2 linked regions of the Homo sapiens genome follow. The protein of the gene in region 2 interacts with the protein of the main gene of each other region in a pairwise test. Each region holds a gene or a part of one and is shown on either strand. Other genes may lie near its edges.

What was found.
Region 1: the proteins of TMIE (region 2) and CLRN1 interact in a two-hybrid assay, tested with the Homo sapiens proteins (one large-scale study listed by BioGRID).

The regions. Positions count from the first base shown.
Region 1 is NC_000003.12:150,927,570-150,931,385, forward strand, and holds part of CLRN1 (clarin-1), read right to left. Parts: intron 633-3,816; coding exon 367-632; 3' UTR 1-366. UniProt on the Homo sapiens protein: May have a role in the excitatory ribbon synapse junctions between hair cells and cochlear ganglion cells and presumably also in analogous synapses within the retina.
Region 2 is NC_000003.12:46,707,685-46,711,498, reverse strand, and holds the end of TMIE (transmembrane inner ear expressed protein isoform 1 precursor), read right to left. Parts: intron 2,374-3,814; coding exon 2,224-2,373; intron 1,921-2,223; coding exon 1,811-1,920; 3' UTR 613-1,810; downstream 1-612. UniProt on the Homo sapiens protein: Auxiliary subunit of the mechanotransducer (MET) non-specific cation channel complex located at the tips of stereocilia of cochlear hair cells and that mediates sensory transduction in the auditory system.

The sequences.
Region 1 (3,816 bases), about 100 Mb from region 2:
ATTTGTTTTTATTAAAATATATTCCATGTGCCTTTGATATCTTTTTGATAGGAAGACATCTTACACACACACACACACACACACACACACATATATATATATGGAGTAACAATTTGTCGATTCTAGTCAACTGCCTTTGACTACCTGGGTCAAGCAATTTCCCACCAGATAAAACAACTTTTCAAAGCCTTCCTTCTGCTTCCCTTACTTTCCAGCCTGTATCCTTAGTACGTAATTTGTAAACATTGTCACGAAGGGTCCTGATGCTTTAATATATGCAGACTAAAAGGATATGCAAAATTAACCACATCTAAAAGTGACCAAAGCAAGTCTACTCCCTTGTAAAATTATAGAAAGGTTTGCCTTTCAGTACATTAGATCTGCAGCTACATTAGTTGTTTCTGCGTCTTTAGATTTTGCAAAAGGGAACTGAAATCCAGCAAGTCGTATTAGGAGCCCATTCAGAAAATGAACAAAAAAGCAAAAGAAAATGACCCAGAATGAGGTGGTATATTTTTCACTTTGCGTTTTGTAGACATAAGTCCCTTCTTTATAATTTGCAATTTTTTCTGAGAGGTGATGGATTTTCACTTCAGAGGCAAACAATATCATGACAAGACAGCCACAGGAGCCTGCAACAGAAGAAACAAGGTGTTGGGACAAATATTTCCTGATTGTAAGGGACAGGGAAGAGGGTCAATGTGTAAACCAAGGAATTCTCTTACCATCATCCCCATTGACATTATCCACACAAAAAATTATTGCATATTTGTAATCATGAGCCTGATTCTTCAGTCTCTAGGTGGTAGGGCTTGGGTTATGGTTCTGCTCTGAGTGAAGAAGATTTGTGTGTGCGTGTAGGAGTGCAGTGGGAGGTAAGGAGGTGGTTAGAATTAAGCTGATCTTACAAAGACTGGGAGATATTCCTCTTTGCATGATGTGAAGGCTGAATTGCTAGGCACTTTAAAGGCATAATGGTGGAATCAGGCTACAAAGCAGCCACTGCTATGATGTGGCTTCAAGAGAAAATATTTCTCTGTACTTCACAGGCCATGCAGGATAAATGTCAATCATGCAGCCTCTTGTGAAAGGCCCCAGCCTCCCTTCAGAAGGGTTACCACAGCTCCTTCAGCTTTCACTTGGCCACAGCTGCACAAAGGAAAAGGTAGCTATGGATGAGGTATTGAGGTGGCGCACATCTCTATTCTCCTTGTTTGTAACAGAATTCAGATTTTTGGCTAGACATGTGAGTGTCTTGAATTAAGACAGCATTGTTCAACTAAGGGTGGTTGGGAAGTATGGGCGGGATAGTCTTCTTGAACTATACAGGTATTAGGGGCCTGTCCTTTCTTCCCCACTTCCTCCTTCCTGTGGCTGAAATATGGATGCAATGGCTGGAGCCCCAGCATACATTTTGGACCAATGTGGCCCCAGAAATGGAAGCCATATGCTGTGGAAAAACAAGAAAGAGGGAGTCTAAATCCCAGATCCTTGGAGCCTCTGGACCAGCCCTGGACTTCAACCTCTAGATTTTTATGTGTGAGAAAAATAAACATTTGTTTTGTTTAGTACACTATTATTATTTTTCCCCCTCATCTATCACTCATTGGTAGCCTAATTTTAACAGATGTAGCTGTGATTTCGGTGAGATTGCTGTGGGACAGGGGCACTCCATACTGGCTGGAAGCTGGAAACTCTGGTGAGTGTCTCCCCCGAAGATGGACACTGGGAGACTTCCAGATGGGTGGATGGCACAGGGAGCAGAAGCAGGTGGCAGGAGGGACCAGATCAGGAGCACATAGGATGGCCAGGACTCTACAGCGCTTCCACAGCTACTGTTATATCTCAGGCCACCACAATAGGGTTCCAGTTAATAGGAGACTTGCTGGGATGGTTTTCTACCTTAGGTGAAACCAATTTGGGTTCAAACCCTGATTCCTTTACTTACTATGTAAAAGTAGGCAATTTTAATATTCAGGTCTCAATTTCTTCATCTATAAAAGGTGGCTAATATAAATAAAGCATGATTTGCATTTGGCTTTGTAATTGACACATATAAATGCTTACTAATTGGTAGCTATTCATATGGTTTTTATGGATTCCTTTTTTCTTGCAAGTCCTTATCATAATAGCTTGATTTAGGTCAAACCAATTTGGTTTCAAATCCTGATTCCTCCACTTACAATGTCAAATTAGGTATTTTATTTCAAATCCTCAGCCCACCCCATATCAGGGACACCTGACTACATCAGGGTAGGCAACACAAAAGAATGTATTACAGTGTCTTTTTTTTCTCCAAATACTCTCCCACTAATTTTATGTCTCCTTTAGGACAGGTAAATGCTTTTTACTCTTCAGTTAAAGTTAATCCAAATATCCTAGGAGTGGCAACATAATGGCTTGAGTTTCTATTCATTAATTCACTCATTCATTTATTCTCTAGACTTATATGGGGGATAGTTGTGGAGATTTAAACATTAAAGATAATACTCATGATTTTTGCTCTCATGGAGTATAATTTGGCAGAGGACATAAAATCAATTACTAACCAATTACAGTGCATGTAATCAAGGGATAGTAGAGGGGCTGTTACTGAGAGGGTGGGCAGCATTATGGAAGGTTCCTTAGAAGTAGCCAGAAGGAGCTATAGGAAAAGTTAGCTGAGCAGAGGGAGGCTGGACTGTGGGGGGAGAGTACTGCAGGCAGGAGGAGCTACGGTGCAAGTGACAGCCCCCATTCCTTTCCCAAAGGTCAGGCTGGGTTTGGGGTAGAGGCAGAGATTTGGGGGTAGGAATGAGGGGAGAGGTGAGCAGAAAAGACAACATCACATTTCTTCTACTTTAGAATTTCACATAGGACTGGCCAATCAGCTTAATCATCATCAAATAATCAAATAATATAATTTTCTTGAAATTTCACTTTCTACCATCCTCAGAGTGGTAGCTGAGAATATTCCTTTGTAAAATTTTGTCAGCCTATTTTTGTATTCTGAGCTTAAAACCAGAGCTCTCCCCTGGCAAAACCGTATTATTTCTTTATTGTTAGATCCTAACAAAAAGGCTGCAGTGCTGTTTTCTCTTTATCTTTTATTCGAAAATTGTGGAGAAAATGCCATTCCTTTTACCATAAGAGCCTTCTTTGTCTGAGGAGATGGTGAATTTCAGACAGAAGTGAAACATTATTTCCTGAGCACCTGAAAGGAAAATTCAAGCTCGGTTTCCTTTTCAAGTTGTTAAATATTTCAAAGGTACTGCTTTGTTAAGGAGACAGCATTACAGCAAGGCTGTATTTCAAATTCCTAAAGTAAAAGTTACTTGGGGTGTCATAAGACTCAAAGCCTTTTGCCATAGCTAATATTTCAAGCACACAGCCCCCAAAACAAAGTGTGCTGTCTGGTAGTAGAGAGGACAGTCTGAGATCTTGCTCTGGATTCTAGGGTTGATCACGAGGTCAACGTTGTCGTTTCAGGGACAGAGGATAGAAACCCAGCCTGAGTCTCATAACCTTTCAGTGACTGCTAAGAGATATGAAGGGAGACAACTCAGTGTGAACTTGGTATATTTTTGCTTCTCTCTGTCCATGGCTCTAAAAAAGACATGGGATCAAGGATAACTATTTATGACTTATGGACCAAAAGATATGCATGAAGAGTTTCTCTTTGTGGCATGGCTGCTAAGGCTATAAAAGAAGTGTGTAAGTGATATGAGTGATGTGAGAATAAGACTCAACCTACACTCTTCCAGTATGACCCTTTGAATCCAGCAAGAGGGGCTCCTGCTTTGTGCCCCACATTTAGAGGGTTCTGCTCTGTCTCTC
Region 2 (3,814 bases):
CTGCTGCCTGGCCACATGGGAAAATTCTGCATAAATAGAATGGCCTTTTTCACCCCTATGTATGAGAAGCCCATGGGTTGGACCCCAAGGGCAGAGGTCGGTCAACTGCCTCCATCTGGTGTCAGAGTCCTCAGCTTCCATGGCGGGGCCTTTGGCCATGGCTCTGCCCCTCACTGCTCCTAAGACCCCATGTCATGCGCTTTCCTCATCAGCCTGGATCACTCTCCTCCCTGTACAGTGATGATCCAGGTCCAGGTCAGGAGCCAGGTTTGACTCTTCTGTGTCCCCAGCACTGGGCACAGACCATCACAGGTCTATTGAAAATCATGAATGCAGCCTTGTGAACTCAGCACCCAGAGAGCTGGCAGCGTCCCTCCCGAGTCCTGTGCCTGCCTCCGGGATGGGCCCAGGTGACTGCAGCTGCCCCTCAGCCTCTTGGCTCCCATTTCTCCCTCTATCTCATCCTAATTCAGGCTGGCAGAAGAGTCAGGGAGGGGACTTTGGCCTGGCCTGAGCCATCTGTCACTGACTGCTGCATCACCCTCCACATAAATGCCCCAGGAATAGCGCATCCTGAGGGGTCATCTCAGGAGGCCATTTTCTAGGCCTGGCTCTGAGAAGGCAATCAGCTTTATTCACAAATCTCTGCAGGCTGCTTTTCCAGCAGGCTCTCCTGGCTCAGAAACCTCTGGTGTCTCGAGACCTTAGTGTTCAGGCCTAGGTTTCAGAGCCTTAGTCTGTTCGATGCCATCTGGAAGTGCCTCTGTGCATCTTCCCTCCCCCAGGTGCTATTTGGGCCTTTGTCTTCTGGTCAGAGATGCTTCTTTTAGGTGCCCGTAGTGGGAAATGGTAGAAGAGGAAGCTGCAAAGAAGCTGGCACTGTTATGGTCAGCAGGCAGAAGGCCCTGCTGTGATCTTCTAGGGCCCTGGGACCTCCCAGCACAGCTGGGCATAGAAGGGGCCACCAGAACAGCCCGAGGTCCCCCTTGGCTTCTTAAATATACTCTGATTCCCAAGAGGAGCCCAGACTCCAGCTCTCTTTCCGGCACCCTCTAGCCCATTGGCCTTAGCTCTGTGTACCCCTGACCCAGCCCTGCAGCCCCCAGCCCCGAGCTCGAGCCTCGGGGCCTCATGCCGGGCCTGGCAGCAGCCTCAGCTTCATCACAACGTGTGAAATGAGGGTAGCCCATTGCCTTGAGCTTGATGTCTGCTGGGCTGGGGGTTCCATTTCTGAAGCCACCTCTACTTACTCCCTTGAGCTGGATCCCCTGCCAGGCTTGGGGAAGTCTTCTCACCACTGGGGCTCCTCCCTGGCCAGACAGAGTCCCTCCTGCTGCCACAGTGTCCCCCAGTGACCCTCTCTGCCTCCTCATGGCTACTCTGGGTGTGGCCTCACACCCTGACCCATGCACTTCAGCCATTTCGTGCCAGAAAGGGTGGCTGAAGTAACCCCATATCCCATTACTCCTTCACAGCCACTGCCATCCCTGGCAGAAAGGGTGGGAGACAGGCAGGTCTGGGTGGGGAGAGCAGTGTATCTGCAGAGGGACGGTGGCACCAGACCACCTCTGCCGAGACAGTACCCATGTGGATGGGGTGAAAGGAGCCAAGCCTAGGCTGGGGGGCAGGACACCTACGAGATTGTCTGGTTCCTGCCCCTGATGGGCCATGAGGATGTGGCCATGGGCCTCAGCTTCCCTCTCTGACCACAGCCTCTGTGGTCCCCAAATGAGCTCAGAGTCCAACATGCCTGGACCCCGGCCACGGCTTGAGCTCCAGGGCCCGCCAGCCCAAGCTGCCCAGGATGTCTTCATTTCTCTCCTTTCTTCTTCTTGGCCTCATTCTTCTCATCCTCCTCTACTTTGATGGCCACTGTGTCCACACTGTCCTTCTTCTTCTTCTTCTTCTTCTTCTTATCCTCTGTGGGGCAGGGGGAAGAGACCATGTGATAGTGGTGAGACAAGGTCCTGGGGTCTGACTGTCCTGAGGGGAAGAGCCCCAGAACCTCCTACACTCTGCCTTTTTCTTCCTTCTTCCTACTGGAGAATAGGCTCATCGTTCTATTTGCCTCATGCCAACCAATTTCTGTGCTCTGGTCTCCAGGGGCAGGGCTGGGGCCCCTCCCTGAACCTGCTTTGGTTGGAGCAGAGGAACAGGGTGACTCCAGGCAGCAGGACTGAGGAACTGGCTGGCGCAGCAGGGCTCAAGCCAGGGCCAACTCACCTCCTGGGACTTCTGTGAGCTCATTGAGGGGTGGCACAGTCTCCAGCTTGTCTGTGTACATCTTGGCTGCCTTTCGCTGCAGGTACCGGGCTTCGATCTCCTTCCGGGTCCGTGGCACACGACAGTTGAAGACACAGCACAGCGTGATGACTGTAGGGAGGACAGAGCAGGCTTGGCTGGGGCTGGGGTTCAGAGACCCAAGGAATGGCATCCGCCTTCCTTCAGGCCCGCCCCCATCCACCCACATGTGTCTCACCCACCAGACCCTGGCAGGAGGCTCAGCATCTTGACAAAACCCCTGTGGACCCTATGATGACCAAGGTGGCTTTCCTAAGCAGGGCTGACTTCATGCAGCTGCACAGGCCCCCGTGCTTGGAAGGGACCCTGGCTAAATTATGTCACCAGTCCTGGTCCTGAGGGTCTTTCTGACTAGACTGAGAGTCACTGGAGGGTAAGGCAGAGGTCTGCACCATGACTTAAGCCATAGCTTCCTGGGGGCCATCCAGCACTTCCAACCCAGGCCTCCGGGTGTGCAACTTAGCTTCTCCTTCCCACACCACTGAGAGCTAGGCCAAAGTTGCCTCAGTCATGAGAGGACGTGGCTCTGCATGTCCTCCTCAGCCTCCCTGAGGACATCCCTGGGCTCTCCCTGGCTAGGGCGGGAGCCCATGAGAGGGCACAGACCCTGCCCTGAGGCATTCACCTCAGACGGAGTTATTTCAGGAGTGGTTTTCCGGCTGAGGGCAGCTGCACCCACGCCAGTTGGGCCAGGTCATGGAGCTGGCCTGTCTAGGGATGGGTAGGGCAGGTTAGGGCTGCCAGGACCTGGCTGGACTGAGTTTATTTTCCTAAGGCCCCCACAGCCTGACCACCTTGGCCCCAGCCCTAGAGGAGGGGATGGAGCTGGTTCCTATTATAAATCAGATGACCAGACATAACTTCCTGGCAGACTCCTGGGGGCAGAAGGGCCCACGGAGGATTAACCAGGTCTATTTTGGGGAAGATGGATCAGATCTATGTAGCCTGGACTGGAGTACCTTCTGGGGTCATTTTATGCAACCAAGTCAGAACCCCTTCAGACAAATATTGTGGTCCTACTAGGTCTCACCCAGGCTCAGAATAAAAGAAAAAAATCAATGAATGAATGAATGGGATGATCTCAAAGCCTTTGCTGTTGGGAACAGGACTGGACTAGAGTGAATGAATTGGGGAGCCAATAGCATCCAGGCATACACTTGGAGGAGGGTGCTGCACAAGGGCCCCAGCTATAGATCCGACTGTCCAGGGGTGGACCTGAGCAGACAGCAGGCCTTATCCAAGAAGCTGGGTCCTGGATTTCTCCAGAACCTGTGTTCATGCCTGAGACTCGAAGTTGGTACCCAATCCTAACCCTCCCGGCTTAGGCCACCTCTTCTAGCCACCCCACCAGGAACCTCCTTGGGACTATGCCCACTCAGGCTCCATGCAGGCTGGTCCCAGGCCCCGGGAGGCTGGGGCTTCCTAAGGAGCTCAGTGGGCCACTGACGGCAGCCAGAGCCGGGCTCAAACACCACCCCTCACTTCAGGCCTGCCCCGCACAGCCTGGCCTGTT